3 linked regions of the Homo sapiens genome follow. The protein of the gene in region 3 interacts with the protein of the main gene of each other region in a biochemical or structural test. Each region holds a gene or a part of one and is shown on either strand. Other genes may lie near its edges.

Region 1 (7,367 bases), on a different chromosome or scaffold from region 3:
AAAGTCAAGCTTCCAGTTTACTTCTTTGGGCCCCTGAGCTATTGAGTCTCCAGGCCCATGGGTGACCTTCGTCTCCACCTCCTGAGTGAAGGGCCCTTCTGCTGCCTCCTGGCCCTGCCAGAGGCTGGCCCCTCCCCGCATCTGTGTGGCTCAGACACTCACAGCTCAGGACACAGGATTCCAGGCCCCTGACCCATATTCTGCCCAGGCACTACCAATGCCAGGATCTGCCATCTGTGCCAGTGACCAAAGGTGGGGGTGACAGGGGTGGACGGGGCTGGTCAGTCCACCTCTGAGCCTCCCCAGCACCCCTGCCCTAGCACAGCCCGCCTAGCCCTGTTCTGTCCTTTGGGCAGACAAAGACGGCGGACCCTCACCTTGGTTCCTTAGTGGCAGAAGACACAGGGGGTTCTGGAGGCTTTAACTCCAGGCAGCAGAGCGGGAAGGCTCAGGCAGGGCAGGGGGAATCCTCCATAGCCCCTCCTCACCTGCAGGGCTGGCTGGAAATCTTTTAAGTTAGATCTCACCCAAATCGGCGAGGTTCTTTTTCCTTTTTTATCCTCTCTCCTCTGAGTTCCCCTGACCCCGCCTCCATTTAAATCTTTCTCTTCTCTTTTCTCTGCTTTCCTCTCTCCTTTTTTACTCCTCTATGTCCCATTCTTTTTAAAAAACAGATAGTTTAGGAATTTCAATTTACCTTTATTTCAGCACCACCTCCCCAAAAACATTCCTCCCAACCACAAAGCTCTTAATAACTTCATTTATATTCCTGGGCGTTAATTATTCCAAACAATGGTGCTAAGGAAAGAGAACCACAGACACAAGCCACTCCTGTGACAGCTGGCTCCTGTGGGCAGCCTGATCCTCTGCAGCGCAGAAATGGAAGGACACTGGGCAGGCCCAGAGATATTTTTGTGCCTCCTTTGGGAAGGCTCTTTGGATCTAGCCTGTCCACAATATACGGGCACCTTATGATGCCTTGAGTGTGCCAGAGACATTTCCCCTGGGTGCACGATGGTCCTGTTTACCACTGCCACAGTACCTTGAGAGGCCACAGGACGCTGTGGCTTTGAATGTGGACCTTGCAGACCAAAAGGTCAGATTCCTGACTCCAACACTTGCAGCCGTCCAGCCTTAAGCAAGACTTTTAAGCTCTCATAACCTGTTTCCAGACCTGAAAATGGGAGTAACGATCACCTGTAACTCATGGTAGCCTTGACCGAAGTCAGTGAGAGAAATCTGCACACAAGCTTGGGCCAGTGCTCAACAAAGGCTTGCTGGTATGGCCTGTGTTGTTGTTCACTGTGAGGTCACCGTGCGTGGGTTAGACAGTGTCCCCCACCCCCGCCACCACAAGGCACTCATGACCCGGCCTGTTTGTGCAAGAACAGATGATGCAAACCAGCATGGCACCCAGCGGAGCTGCTGCCAGCTTCTTGGGGACGCTGTGCAGCACATGGGCCTGCCACCAGCTGTCAGGACCCGTCCAACTGTTTTGGAAGTGCCTCGAGCATCTGCCACTGTCTGCCTCATGGTGCTTCTGCCCAGGCAGAGGTCAGGGCTGTGGCGGGGGTGCTGGCCCCAGCTGGCTCTGCCTGCGTCCCTCTGAGCCCCCTCAAGCCCTCGCCTCACGAAACAAGCTTATCTTCAGAAGAGCATTCCTGTCCTGTGCAGGGGCTCAGCTTCTGCCCTGCTTCAGGCCTTCCTCATTTACCTGCCCTCCCTAGGAGTCACCAGCCTCCTTGCCTCCTCATTCCAGTGCATACCCCTGGCTTCCCGAAGAGCCACCGAAGCCAAATCTCACATCCTCCAAGGGGAATGGGCCACTGAAATGAAAATGATTCTCCACCTAGAGGCACCAGAAACCAAGTCATGTTTCTGGGCCTCCACCTCTGGGGCCTGAGATGTGAACACACGGGTGGGAGTGTAGGTGCCTGGCTGTGTCCCTTCATATCCCAGATGCTCAATGCATGTGGCTATGTGCATGCCGTCCTCTGCTCAAAAACTCTCAGAAAGTGTTCCAACTTCTTGCTTGGCCTGGAAGGATGTGCCTCTCCCTCTGGCCTCCCCTTCTAGCCTCACCCCCATTTTTCACATGCAGAACCCTTTGCCAGAGCCACATTTCACTTTCCATCATCACCCCAGGTCCCTTGACTTCCCTGCCTTTGCCCAAGCTGCTCCTCCACCTGGAGGTCTCTGTTTCCACCCTGAGGCATCCCACCCATCCTTTCAAAGGCCATGGCCTCCTTAAATGTGTCATGCATATGCGTGTGCACACACATGCATGGTATTCTTGCATCCCTGCATTCCACAGCTTTGTTGGATCTCACATAAATAACATTCCTCCATTTCCTCTCCTAATCCCCAAACAGTTGAAAGCAGAGCACATGGCACCTTGGCTGCTATGGTCTCCCACAATACCGTGCATGCCTAGGCACTCTGCAACAGCTACATTAAATTAACTCCCACTCATGAAAACCTCTATCTGTGCGCCTGGCCTGAAAGCATTTCTGAAAGTCACTTGTCTGACACAGATACCGCCCAAGACCTACAGACCCAACAATAGCATCATTGATAAGTCCTTTTGCATTTCCATTTTTAGAAGTGCACAGCAGAGTGATATTCTGAGCCAGAGTCCTCCAGAAGAATGGGTAAGTACATGCAAATTGCTGAGTCTCTGTTCATTGCATCCAAAACGAAAGTCACCAGCGTGCTGTATAACTCAAGAAAATACGAGAGAGAGGGAAAAGCAACATCACAGTTTGACTACAAGCGGTTTCCAGTAAGTACTGCAGCCGAAAATCCCCACCAGCCAAAGAATCTTTTGCAAGATCTGTATAAGAAAGTTGAAAGCATGCATTACCTGTTAGGCTCTGAAACAAGGGTACAATTCAGGGGTAATACAAAGGATTTTCTTGAAAGTGTCTTAATTCAGAACATGCTCCCCGAGTTTTCCTTCTGCCCTGGCCCCAAGCTTCTGGCTGCTCTGCCAGGCAGTTCTGAAACGCTGTCCTTTGAAGCAGGGAGTTTATTTTGGGGCCACCGCATGACCAACGTTGACAAGCCAAACTATAAGATGTTATACATCTCAGATTTCCTGTTTGGAGGTTGCACTGAGGAAGCTGCAATCCTGCCTTCCGTTCCTCCGGGTGCATCGAATACAGACTCTCACTTCAGAGAGGATCCCGGAGCTTTGGCCCTCACGTGATGTCATCATTTGTGATCCTTGACATGGAGGCCATATATGGGTATGTTTCTGGAACTACCCAGGGGAGAGCCAGACAGGAGAGAGATGCAGTGGGTCAGAGACAGAGGCAGGGAACGAGGACGAGGAGACGCATAGTTGGGAGACAAAGAGTGAGGAGCAAGGGAGGAGGAAGAAAGGGGAAGAGGAGAAGTAAAGGCAACAAAGGAGGGAAGGCAAGACAGCAGGAAGGAAGAGGATGGAGTGAAAGAGAAGGGAAGAAGGGGAGAGAGGAGATGAAGGAGTTGACGTAAAAGGGCTTTGGAGAAATCAAGGTTTGGTGCTGAGCTTGTGGCAGCATTTGGGGATAGCAGGTGTCTGGCTGCTGGATACTGTGGGGTGGGGCTGGGGATACAAAGGGCCAGGGTACAAATGAGCCAACAAACAAACACAGAGGCATGCGGGCAAGCCCTGGGCAGAGATATACAACAGAAGAGAGCCCTTCCTCCTGGTCTAGGGAAGAACGTCCCATTTCTGGAATAGGTCAAATGTCAAAGACAACACATACACAGCCACATGCACTGAGCATCCGGGATGTGACAGGACATGGCCAGGCACCTACTCTCCCACCCGTGTGTTCACATCTCATGCCTCAGAGTTAGGGGTCCAGAAACATGACTTGGTCTGTTCCTCTAAGGGGAGAATCATTTTTGTTTCAGTGGCCCATTCCCCTTGGAGGATGTGGATTTATGATGGCCACAGCATGATTTCTCACTGATTCAAACTCAGGAAACCTCAGGATGCCTTTACACGCACTTCGAATATTCCACAAGGAAATACATCTCAGTATACAAGGTGCCACGGGGTTGAGTCAAGGTTCTGGAGGTCTGACTGGTGCTAAAGATGGGAAGGACACCAGTGGTCCCCAGGCAGTCCCCCAGCTTCCCTGGTACCTGCCAAATTGCTCATCACCCCAGCTGGGTCAGTCTTCCCAGGCCACTGTGGCTGGGTGGCCCTCAAAGTTAGCTCAAGTTCAGCCCCTTCCAGACCCATGTGCTATGGAGGGAGTGTAGGAGAAGGGCAGAGAAGGGGCTGTCAGATTCTTTTTACTTTTTGGAGACTCTGCTACCCAGTAGGATGTTCCCCGAGAGACGTCTCTGTGGGACGGCTCCCCGAGGCCGGGCTGCTTTCCTGGGCTCCTTGCTGGAGGCAAAACACAGGTTCCTCTACTTCCTGCCCACCACCTGCCCCTTCCCAATCTGACCTGGAAGGTGGGCTGTGGCCAGGCCAGGCCCCTCCTAGGTTGCCCTCTGCCTCATGGGCATGCACACATGCACACACACACACACACATACACACCCCAAACTCCATCCAAGATGTGTCTATTCCTTCCCTCCCCTTGAATATGGGGTGGCCTAGTGATGGACTTAACAATAGAATGCAGTGGAAATGATGTCCTGAGACTTCCAAGGCTAGGTCATGAGATGCTTTGTAGCTGCCATGTTGTGAGGAAGTCCAAGCAAGCAACACCCAGGGCCCCCAGAGCATCTAGCACCAGGCAGAGGGGTGAAGACACCCTCTCGGAGGTGGATCCTTCACCTGCAGCTGCCACAGCTAATGCCACGTGGAGCAGAGACAAACCACCCACAACTTCCTGACCCATAAACCACAAGCTATGATAAAAGGATTGTTTCGTGCCACTGGGGATTGAGGTAGTTTGATATGTAGTAATAATCAACCCAGACACTCACCAAATATTCACTGCGGTCTCAGCTGCATGCTCCTCAGCTCTCGTGTGCTACCCGTGAACTTTTTTCTGACTTTCCACTTGTCTTTGTTTCCATTTAAAAGAAGAAAAACAGATTCAAACTAAATTTTTTTTTACCTCACTCTTTACAAAAGAATGTAGTCCCAAGTCATTTCCCAGTTCTTGGGTTTATCAGACCAGAAGCTCCTTTTGGCTGAGATTCTGTCTTACAGGGGAATTGTGGTCCCTCTAACTGGAGGGACTCTTGGCTATCCTGGTGTTCAGAGCCCTCATTTACTAGTTCAGGCCCCAAGAGGTTCTGTGCCTTCTCTGAGATCACCTGGCAATTTGGGGGCAGAATAATTCACACATTGAAAGCCATGCCAGTGGGAACCATGCCCCATGGGATCAGACGCTGATGTCCTAAAGCACAGACACTCTCCTGACAAAGGCAGGGACAGCGTTCAAGCATCTGACTCGAGCCTGTGGAGGGCAGGCAGTGTGACCCAGAGGAAAGAGAACTGTGCTGGGATCTGGCCCTAGCTGCTCATTAGAATCATATTACACTTACCTATGCCTGCCCCACCCCAGAGATTCTGATTTAAATAATCTGTGTCGAGGCCCAAACAGGACTGATTTTTAAAAACTTTTTATTAAAGTTCAGTATACCCACAAAAAAGTGCAACTTTCACATATGTACAGCCCAGTACATTTTCACAGACTGGACACACCCAACATCTGAATATTACAAGCACCTCAAGAGCTCCCACCACCCACCACCTCCTGCCAGGGGTGACCACTCTCCTGACTGCTAGCAGGACAGGTTCCTTTGAACTTCATGTGAATGAAATCATTGCGTCTCGTTTCATTTAACAACACATTGCGAGACCTGCCCATATTGTTTCATGGAGTTGTAGATTGTTATTTTAATTGCTGTGTAGTATTCCATGCTATGAATATATCACAATTTATTCATTCTACTGTTGATGGACATCTGGGTGGTTCCCAGTTTTGGGCGATGATGAAGAGTGTAGCTATGAACATTCTAGTACATGTCTTTTGGTAAATATTCATACTCCTTTCTCTTGGGTATACACCTAGGATGGGGATCACTGGGTCAGAGTTTAGGTCTTCTTTCAACTTGAGTGAAACTGTCACATGGCTTTCCAAAGTTGTGTCAGTTTGCACTCCCATCAACCAGGCATAAGAGTTCCAGTCACTCTATATCCTTACCAACAATTGGTAGATTCCATCTTTTTTCTTTTTTTTTTTGAGATGGAGTCCTGCTCTGTTGCCCAGGCTGAAGCGCAGTGGTGAGATCTCGACTCACTGCAACCTCCACCTTCTGGATTCAAGCGATTCTCTTGCCTCGGCCTCCCAAGTAGCTAGGATTACAGGTGCCCACCACCACGCCCAGCTATTTTTTTTGTATTTTTAGTAGAGATGGGGTTTCACCATGTTGGCCAGGCTGGTATCGAACTCCTGACCTCAGGTGATCTGCCCGCTTCAGCCTCCCAAAGTGCTGGGATTACAGACGCGAGCCACCGCACCCAGCCTCCATCTTTTTTCATATTATCTATTTTGATGGGCATCCGTGGCATCTTGTTGCAGTTTTAATCTGCACACCCCTGATGACAAATTACGGTGAGCATTTGAGCAGCCCTGGCCTCAGTGATCTCTGGAGCCTTTCCGGGGTCCCTAACTTTGCACAAGGCCCACCAGCTACCCTGGGAACAGCCCTCCAGGGAGGGTTTTTGTGGGGAAACAAAGGGAATAGAAGGGGAATAAAAATGCAGAGGCAGAAACTATGCAACTGATCAACCTGCAAGGGAGTGGGAAGAAGAATGTGGCCACCACAGGAAAGCCCCAGGACTCACACCTGGAACCAAGGTGGGTTTCACTCTCCCAAGCCTAACTAGAACCTGCCCTCCCTTACTCTACCCCCTCACCTGGCATTATCCTCCCTGCTGACCTATTCTATATTTATCTCCCATATGTGCATTGCCTGTTTCTTCCATCTAGAATACTTTGTCCTTCTGTTCACTGCTGTGTGTCGGTGTCTATAGCAGTGCCTGGCACATAAGAGATGCCCATTCCATAACTGTTGGACATGTGTGCCCACACTCAAGCCCACAGTCCCTGAGGCAGAATTGGGAAGGGCCTTGGTTCTGCCTGCCAACCCGAGCCTGGCCGGTGGCTACAAAGACACACACACACTTTAGGTCTCTCCCTTCCAGACATCCCTCTCTGTTTATGTCAGCCTGAATGCCCAGGAATAAAGGGGTGCATGTATGTATTGGAGAGGCCATTTGCAGGGCCCTATACCTAGTCGGGTCTAGGGGGAACCAAGACCAGCACATGTTTCTGTGACAGTGACACCTCTTCCAGAAGGAGGGAAGGAGAGTGGAGGAGGAAGAGCCAGCCAAGAGCCCCCGG
Region 2 (7,000 bases), on a different chromosome or scaffold from region 3:
AGCCCTATTTTAGTGGAAACATTTAAAAATAGCACTTGCTTAAAATGTTCTTTTATTCTGTAAGCATAATTCAAGGACCATGGCATTAGGGAGCTCCTATCAAATTAGTGTTTTTTAAAATGGCCAGAATTCTAGAATATTTGTTTATTCATTTGTTCAGCATGTCATTATTGAGAGCTGGTGTGCCAAGAAAATGAATGTGAGTTATTTTTAAAGTAGGGAGGCAAAATAAAAAGATTGTCTTAGGTCTTAGTCCATTTGTGCTGCTTTAAGAAAATACTATAAACTGGGTGGCTTATGAACAACAGAAATTTATTTCTCACAGCTCTGGAGGTGAGAAGTCCAAGATCCAGGCAGATTGAGCATCTGGTGAGGTCCCTCTTCTGGGTTCATAGATGATACCTTCTTGCGATGTACTCACATAGCAGCAGGGAGACAGCAGCTCTCTGGGGCTTCTTTGATGAGGTCACTGTAGGAGTCTATTCTTACGTTGCTATAAAGACATATCTGACACTGGGTAATTTATGAAGAAAAGAGGTTTAATTGGTTTACGGTCCTGCAAGCTCTACAGGAAGCATGGCGCTAGCATCAGCAAGGCCTCTGGGGAGGCCTCAGGAAGCTTCCAATCGTGGCAGAAGGCAAAGTGGGGAGCAGGCTTCTCACATGGTGGGAGCAGGAGCAAGAGTTGGGGAGAGATGCCACACAATTTTAAATAACAGATCTCATGAGAACTCACTCACTGTGGTCAGAATAGCACCAAGCCATGAGGGATTGATCTGCCCCCATGATCGAAATACCTTCCACCAGGCCGTACCTTCAACATTGGGGATCACATTTTAACATGAGACTTGGGCGGGGACAGATACCCAAACTGTATCAGTTACTAATCCCATTCATGAGGGCTCTGCCCTCATGATCTAATCACCTTCCAAAGGAACCACTTCCTAATACCATCATGTTGGGAATTAGGTTTTCAATGTAGGAATTTTGGGGTAACACAGACATTCAGTCCATAGTAACCTACATTTGGTAACATAGATGAATTTTTTAAACAATGCAAATCTCTGTCTTTCCATCTATCCATCCATTCATTCATTTATGTACCATTTTTTTCTTGGCAGGATTTGGCTCATTTGTGGAAAAGACTGTGATGCCTTACATTAGCACAACACCAGCTAAGCTCAGGAACCCTTGCACAAGTGAACAGAACTGCACCAGCCCATTTAGCTACAAAAATGTGCTCAGTCTTACTAATAAAGGAGAAGTATTTAATGAACTTGTTGGAAAACAGCGCATATCTGGAAATTTGGATTCTCCAGAAGGTGGTTTCGATGCCATCATGCAAGTTGCAGTTTGTGGAGTAAGCGCATTCATTTCCTATCAGGGGATATTGTTTCTATTATGTGTGTGAATTTTAAGTGTGATTTTACTATGATAATAGAAAAATTGACCTTAATTTTCATAGATTTGATTATCTTAGAGAAGTAATTTTAAGTAAACCCTTAAATTGCCTGTATACATAAAGTGCCTTTATAAAAGCATATTTAATCTTTATGCAAACCACACAGTTAGTTTATTCATGCGGGCTTTTAAAAGACAGAATGCTAACCATTTGAAACAGCGGGGCAACCTCTCTGTACTGTAGCTGGTGGTCTGGATTTTAGAAAAGCCCATGTGTCCTAACTTTCTGGCTTTGTACTAGAGATAGAATTGATGTTATTATCTGAGGCATCACCAGGAACCTTGAAATTGCTCAAAGGGAGAGTGTCTTGTATCATTTTCCTTTGGTCAGTTTTCTTCTCACTGTCTTTGAAAGACACATCTTTCTCCTGTGTCTTAGTAATTCAAAAAGAGAGAACTTTTTAAGCTCTAGTTTTTAACCTATATGAATAGATGTATTTTGAGAAGTGATACAATATTTGTAATTTTAATTGTAAGATTTTCAGTAGCAAGCCCATCCCTATTGGTTCAATAATTTGTATTTTATGATCCATGTAGCAGCTATGTATTTTGAGATGACACTTTAATGATGTGGCTGAGGCTGAAACTAGAAGACATTGTCATGTCAAGTTTGTCCTGCGTACCTACTCTTGTCTCATTTTTGTTCCCTCCAGTGCCCCCATTCTCTAGATGACCTTCTTTGATTTTAGAGGCCTCTTAGTGGTTATTTTTCAGTCAATTTTTGCTAAGGTGCTAATTGATGCCCAAAATAATAAGTGAAGGAATATGGATAGTAATTAAGAATTTTTCTATCACCACTGATGCTGGGCAATTTACTCAGCCTCTCCAGGGCTGTTTTCTTCTCTTTAAGAAGGGATCATGATAGTATCTACCTCATAGGGCTCTTGTGAAGTTAAAATGCATCAATCTCTATAAAGTACCAATGAGCATTCAGCAAATACTAATTCCTATATTGTTATTACTTTCGACTTTTCACTAGAGTGTTTGCAATTTAAGGTTAGTCCCTGCTGTTATAGCCGAAGCAAGTAGCATTCCAGGTAGTACCTAGCCTTACACCTCTTTTCTTACTAGCCATTGATGTGTGAGCCTGTTAGCAGCTCGTTGTGGGGAGGGCATTCTCTGGGCTGCCTCTAACTAGGCCTTAACCTGTGGTATTAAACAAGCCATAACACCCTTGATTGTGGCTGTTTTTCTGTGTTGGTCATGCTGATCCACTCCTCTAGATGCAAAAGAATCAGACATTCCACTTTTGAAAGATTGCCAGTATTAATAAATGTGATTCCCACCTTAAAGTATTTTACTGTCTTATGAAGATCTAAACAGACGTATTAAATAAATTAACGAAAGCAGGTAAATTCCTATAGTCCTATGATTTTATAATTATAAATTACCATAGTGACAAGAAGATTTTACAGTTACTTTAGATTCTTTATTGGAAAGGGCAAGGATAAAGTAAATGAGTGCATAAACAGTACTGATTGAGGAGTTAGAATGGGTGAAATTATCCTTAAACAAGATACTTATTTCTGTTATAAAAAAAGGAAGCCTCATATGGTGGGCTGATAAAGAAGGTGCATGGCATAGAACATAGAGCAGAGATGGGTGGATGGGGACAAGACAGCAGCAGTGGGGTAAAGTAAGGATAGGCTCAGACACTTTCATTTATTCAGCAAATGCTCATCAAGGGCTTACTGCTTGCCAAGCAGTGTGCTGGCTTGCTAGCTGCTGGAGATATGATGATAAGCAGAACTAAACCAAACCAAACAAAACAAAAAAACAGTTTTTAAAAAGAACTGAGAGATTGAGAGATACGGATGGTCAGGCAAGATATCGTTGTACATGGGATGGAAGAGCTTCATTCAGTGGGCTTTGTGTGTTTCTCAGCAAGATAATTACCATTGTATAAAGAGAAGACACAGAAAATACAGAATTAGGTTAAAAATACAATGGTGGCCTATATGAAAATTAAAGGATTTTTGTTGAATTACTGTGAATAGTGTTTTAAAATTGAAATCCTTTTCTTTTCAAGTCACTGATTGGCTGGAGGAATGTTACACGGCTGCTGGTGTTTTCCACAGATGCCGGGTTTCACTTTGCTGGAGATGGGAAACTTGGTGGCATTGTTTTACCAAATGATGGACAATGTCACCTGGAAAATAATATGTACACAATGAGCCATTATTATGTAAGTGCCTGGTTCCTTACATAGTGAATGTGTTTATGTTGGATTTTAATGTTTAATACTAAGAGCTTGTGGGTGACTGGCTTGGGGTTTCTCAGGGTTTGAGGTTTTGCTGTTTTGGTAAGTAGGGGTCCTGATTGAAAGTGCAGGAAAGCTAGTGTTGCTGTTTGTGAAGATGCAGCTTTGTATTTGCTTCCTTCTGCTCAGACAAGGGCCTCACTGGGGTGGGAAAGGGATGCCCAGATGCCACTTTCACTCTTTGCCTCAACTCCCCGCCCACAGCATTTGGTAGCACAGTCAGTACTCTTTCTAAATAAATAATTTATCTAGTCTCATACTCTTTGTTTTATACGATTTTTAAAAGCAGTCACTCTGCCTTTATTGAAAATAAATATTGGCAAAGCATTCAAGTTCTAGAAGAAATCCAAATGGTAAATCTTGGTCTTTTTCTTAAGTTGTAGATAATAGAATATTTAATTACTGACTATTCTTTAATTTCATTGTCCTTATATTTAATATACATAGATAAACTTACTATTTAAAACCTTTTGAATATGGAATTTTTTATTCATACATGAAAGTAAAGAGAAGAGGATTAGCAATTCATGTATACACACGACTCACTTCAGCAGTTTATATTTGATACTGTTATTTGAAAGCAGTCTTGTAATCTAGTTATATGTATGCAACTAGATGTAATCTAGCTATATATGGATTATATATGTAATCTAGTTATCTAAAGCAGTCTTGTAATCGAGTTATGTGTAATCTTGCATGTATAACTAGATTGAAAAATTAGAAGAGATTATAAGGGTGTATTTAAATACTAAATTATATTACTTGATTTCTTAGGATTATCCTTCTATTGCTCACCTTGTCCAGAAACTGAGTGAAAATAATATTCAGACAATTTTTGCAGTTACTGAAGAATTTCAGCCTGTTTACAAGGTAAATGTGTGAGATAAAAAGAACAAGATTCTAAACATTTTTGATTGTTAGAGGCAAATCATGTCTGAATTGAAATGTGGGAAAATGCCACCAGATAGGCAAACCGAATTTTACAAAAGTGGTTTATATTAATTTTTAATCACATATTATAAAACTGGTTTCTAGGTTTGACTCCTAAAGTTAGTTAGGAGGAAACATGGGAACTGGCATTTAAAGATAAAAGTTGCTCAGTGGATCCTAATTGGTTGAATGAATAGCAGTTGTATTTTACGTGTTTTATCTTTTAATTGCAGGAGCTGAAAAACTTGATCCCTAAGTCAGCAGTAGGAACATTATCTGCAAATTCTAGCAATGTAATTCAGTTGATCATTGATGCATACAATGTGAGTACATCTTAAATAAGATCAGTTTTGGACAATACCCTGTTGAGAATACTTTGTACAAAGAAAGTAAAACTTCCTTCATACACACTTTAGCGAGCCCAAAGTACTACAGAAAAACTTAAATTCTGTATGTATCTAGAGGAAAAACTTTATACATATTGTCTTACAAAAGCAAGATTCATGGCCTAAACAAAGTGAAAATGTGATAAAGGCATGTGGGGAGTATTTCCAAATAACTGTTTGTTTATCATTAAGGAATAGATCTCCTTGTTAGAAAGCAATTGTAAAACATAACTTACATTTAAACTTACAGGATTTCTCCAATCTTTTTCCTCCCCAAAATATCCTTTATAGAGTCATCTATTCTGATGAATTGTGCTAGAAAAGTTTTTTTTTTTGCCAATTCTTCTCTTCCCATATATTCAGAGGATATGGGTTTCTATTTCAGGAGGTACACACTCATATATACGTATACCATAAAATATATAAAAATGTAAATATACATGTGATTTGCCTATTTCAAAAAGATTTATAGTGTTGTTTTCCCCTCACAGATGGGAGGAAGTTGAATTGAAATTAAAGAGGAATTGGCTTATCCTTTTTGAGCATAATTCAGTGTACTTTAATCACACCGAGTTAGCCTTCATTAATAATCATTTAAATAATCTGAAGGCGGTTGTAATTTGGTAGGTAACCCTTGTGTGTCTCGTGCACCACTTTCAGCCCCCATCCCCCTAACCCTTTGGCAGCTTGAATTTTAGACATTTTTACTTCATGTCATGGGGGTACCATAACGCTTTGGAAAGGCCAGCCTACCATATGAGGCTTCCCTTTTTTATGGGGTACCATAATGGTTTGGAAAGGCCTGACTTGGAGGGGTTTTTATAAAGGTTTTTAATATTTTACTTGTTCCACAGCTTTTCCCATTCTCCCCTGTCTTAGATAATTTTCCTAACTCTTGTTCTTTCAGGGGTGTGAACAAGAGATAGCTTGCCATTGTACCCTTCTCCATTTGTCCTGAATAGTCTCATATGTTAAACAAGCCCTGGCTTGAATCCTTCCTTCTTGGGGGATTTTGTTTTTTTTTTTTTTTGGCTGGGCTACAATGGTTCCTTAAGCAAATTTGTTCCTAGACTGCATAGTTGATTGTTTACCCTAGTCCATAGTTAGCTGGAGAGGTAGGACTACAGAAATGCCATTTTGCCGATGGGGAAGACAGCATTTATTTCGTTTTTTTTTGGGGGGTTTCTGTTTTTGTTTTTGTTTTTGTTTTTTAGATGGAGTCGCACTCTGTTGCTCAGGCTGGAGTGCAGTGGTGTGATCTTGGCTCACTGCAACCCCTGCCTCCCGGGTTCAGGCGATTCTTCTGTCTCAGCCTCCCGAGTAGCTGGGATTACAGGTGCACACTGCCATGCTTGGATAAATTTTTTTTTTTTTTTGTATTTTAGCGGAGATGGGGTTTCACTGTGTTGGCCAGGCTGGTCTCCAACTCCTGAGCTCAGGCAGTCCACCTACCTTGGCCTCCCAAAGTGCTGGGATTACAGGTGTGAGCTACCACACCCGGCCTATTCCACATTTTTAAGACTCCTCCTAATTAGTAACAGCCCTCTGCACTGTGTGATCCTGAGTATTTTAACTCAGTGATTAAAACAGGAATACTCTTTTCAATTGTGTATTTTATTTTAAAGATTTGATCCTTATTAATTAAAACCTGTTTCTCTGGCCTCTGTGTTTTCTAGTTACTCAATTGGATTTGGCTTGTAGATACTTTATTGAAATATATTTTTTTCTGAGCAGTTTATCCATTGGTTTTATGCATTCAAGTAGCATTTTGTTTGACTTTTCCTGTGTATAATTAGGCATTCTTTTAGTCCCTTTCCTCAGAAGTCATTTTGGAAAACGGCAAATTGTCAGAAGGCGTAACAATAAGTTACAAATCTTACTGCAAGAACGGGGTGAATGGAACAGGGGAAAATGGAAGAAAATGTTCCAATATTTCCATTGGAGATGAGGTATGTTGTATAAA
Region 3 (2,758 bases):
TTTTTGAGACAGAGTCTCGCTCTGTCGCCCAGGCTGGAGGGCAGTGGCGCGATCTCGGCTCACTGCAAGCTCTGTCTCCTGGGTTCGCACCATTCTCCTGCCTCAGCCTCCCGAGTAGCTGGGACTACAGGCGCCCGCCACCACACCTGGCTAATTTTTTGTATTTTTAGTAGAGACGGGGTTTCACCGTGTTAGCCAGGATGGTCTTGATCTCCTGACCTTGTGATCTGCCTGCCTCGGCCTCCCGAAGTGCTGGGATTACAGGCGTGAGCCACCACACCCGGCCGGGCCTGCTGTTGATTATCTGGCCACCTCCACCAGGGAGCCTTCCTGACACCACCCTACCCAGTAATGGGCTCTCCTGCCCAGCTCTTTGCCTCCTTGCTGCCTGGGCTCCATTCCAGGTTGCTACATGTTCCTCTCCTTACGTTGGCTTGAACTCAGGGAGGCAGAGGAAGCAAAGATAGATGGTGCCTTCTGGAGTCAGGGTGGGGTGAAGCAGGAGCCCTGGAGGGAGGTGACCTGTGCTCAGCCCATGCTTTGATCTGCTCATTGGCACCCCTGTCAGGTTGGCCTTGACTGGTCCCCCAACCCCAACAAAGCTACAGCCACGCAAAGGAGAATGGAAGCAAAACTTTATTCCTCTTGGCTGGAGAAGAGAACTAGTGGGTGGTTGTGTACAGGACCCCCATCCCTCACCCCTCCCAGAACCAAAGAAGACAAGCAGCGCCACCAAATGGCTCCCTCTGCCCAAGTGAAAGCCGAGAGGTCAGCGGCTGGCTGGGGAGGCAGGTGAGCGCAGCACGGCACAGGGCAGGGGCGGCTGCAGTGACAGGCGGGCGGCCAGGGCGGCCTGGGCCGGGGTTGAGGGGAAGAGGGCGGGGCTGCTTGGGTAGCGGGGCAGGCTTGGGGGCTGCCGGCTGGCACGGGCCCCAGACTCAGGGCACCACAACGCGGTAGGGGCTGCCTGGGATGTGCTCGTCCCCCCATTTGACCACCAGTGTGTACTCCCCCTTGTCCTTGAGCAGGTAGGACACGCTGTAGAGCCGGCTGCCCACGTGCTTCACCAGGATCTCCTCGCAGGGGGTCCTTGGGCCATGAACCCCCACCAGCAGCATGTTGTTGCCTGAGGCAAGAGGGGTCCTCAGTCCCAGGTCCCAGCCCCCTTCCTCCCGCTGGTGTCCTGCTCTCCTCTCCTGTCCCTAAGCCAGTTCTGGGGTGACAGTTCTCTCTTCCTAAAGAGCTGCCAGCACCTCCCCAACCCAGGCCAGCTTAGCAGATTCCAGCTCCTCCCTGGTCTTTGTTTGAGGGGTCCAGGAGGTGGCAGGGAGGTGGCTCTAGAAGTGAAAGCCACGCCCCAAAGGCGGTCCCTGCTCTCCCAGACACTGGCCATCCTGTGATTTCTGGCCTCATTTTGGTGGGAAGGTGGGCCGGGGGCCCAGGTTGCCCACCTGCTTTGCTGCAGTCTACTGTGAAGCTGCTCTTCTGGCCTACGTAGGCCTTGCTCAGCCCCAGGCCCTTGGCCACCACCTTGCTGGCGTCAGCAGGCCCAGGACCCGGGGCCCCATGCTGGGGGGCACAGGTGGCCTTGGTCAGAGAGTCTACAAACACTGATGATGTCTCGTGGAGGCTGTGGTTGCTGACGAGACGGGGGCCTGCAAGGCAGAGTGGGTGGGGCTAAGAGGTGGCTGTGGTGCCGGGCGTTGGGCAGATGCCAATAGCTTGGCCCCAGGCTCACCTGTGACTTTGGCCTTGAAGGGGCTGCCCCCAATGTGGTAGGGGCCGCCGTACTTGATGGAGATGAGGTAGCTGCCAGGTGCCATGGGGGTATAGGTGACGCGGTAGCCCTCAGGGCACTCCTGGCAATCCATCTTCACCTTGGAGGGGCCGTCAATGGTCACCGACAGGGCACCAGCTCCCGCATTGCTCGTGTTCACGACGAACTCAGCTGGGTTCCCTGGGAGCACAGGAGGTCAGGCAGAGCCAGACTGGCCTGCCTCCCTGTCCTCGGCCACCCAGCACAGGCTTGTCACCTCCAGGTGCCTCCTGTTGTCACCAAGAGCTTGGAGGCAAGGGCCTAGCAGCTGTGTGCACACGTGCAGCCGCACCGACAGACTTACCTGTGACACCGCCTTCCAGACCTGCTCCGTAAGCAGACACCAAGCCTGGGTCCCCTCCATGCCCAGGCTCCCCAACTCGGATCTTGAAGGGGCTTCCAGGGATGTGGGTGCCGTTGAACTTGACGTCAATCAGGTAAACGCCATTCTCCCGAGGGATGAAGCGCACAGCATACTTATCTGAGGAGCAGGGAGTCATGCTGTGGGCCTGGGGCCCCTCCTCAAACCAGCAGATGGTGTCTGTGAGGAACAGCCTCAACCCTGGCCCTCCCCATTTTGCCGGTCCATCAGTGTGAGCCCAGCCACGCTGGGCACCTGCACCCCGCAGCAGACCTCCTGAGGGCCGAAGGTTTAGACACTCAAGCTGCCCACCGTCAGGGTGCATTGGGACGGAAATCTTTTACAAGCCAAACCCAGGCCTTGCTGCCTCCTAAGAAAGGTTACCGTGAACACCATATCCCCTGCATGTTAACAGGCTCAGAGACGGGCAGGAACTTGCTTCAGGTCATGCAGCTGGGAAGGGCAGGACTAGGCCGTGAAATGAAGCCCACTGGGCTCCTCCTACCCACAAGGCTGCCCCAGGCCTGTGCACAAGTACCATGGCCGTGGCTGAAGGGCCGGGCAGCACTGAGGCTGGACTT

What was found.
Region 1: the proteins of FLNA (region 3) and ASB2 form a complex in vitro, tested with the Homo sapiens proteins (3 studies listed by BioGRID, with this or other methods).
Region 2: the proteins of FLNA (region 3) and ITGB1 form a complex in vitro, tested with the Homo sapiens proteins (3 studies listed by BioGRID and IntAct).

The regions. Positions count from the first base shown.
Region 1 is NC_000014.9:93,973,571-93,980,937, forward strand, and holds the start of ASB2 (ankyrin repeat and SOCS box protein 2), read right to left. Parts: upstream 3,001-7,367; 5' UTR 2,864-3,000; intron 1-2,863. UniProt on the Homo sapiens protein: Substrate-recognition component of a SCF-like ECS (Elongin-Cullin-SOCS-box protein) E3 ubiquitin-protein ligase complex which mediates the ubiquitination and subsequent proteasomal degradation of target proteins.
Region 2 is NC_000010.11:32,920,231-32,927,230, reverse strand, and holds part of ITGB1 (integrin beta-1 isoform 1A precursor), read left to right. Parts: intron 1-1,121; coding exon 1,122-1,360; intron 1,361-3,490; coding exon 3,491-3,646; intron 3,647-4,495; coding exon 4,496-4,591; intron 4,592-4,884; coding exon 4,885-4,974; intron 4,975-6,845; coding exon 6,846-6,986; intron 6,987-7,000.
Region 3 is NC_000023.11:154,347,911-154,350,668, forward strand, and holds the end of FLNA (filamin-A), read right to left. Parts: intron 2,298-2,758; coding exon 2,121-2,297; intron 1,958-2,120; coding exon 1,739-1,957; intron 1,656-1,738; coding exon 1,452-1,655; intron 1,127-1,451; coding exon 939-1,126; 3' UTR 621-938; downstream 1-620. UniProt on the Homo sapiens protein: Promotes orthogonal branching of actin filaments and links actin filaments to membrane glycoproteins. Anchors various transmembrane proteins to the actin cytoskeleton and serves as a scaffold for a wide range of cytoplasmic signaling proteins.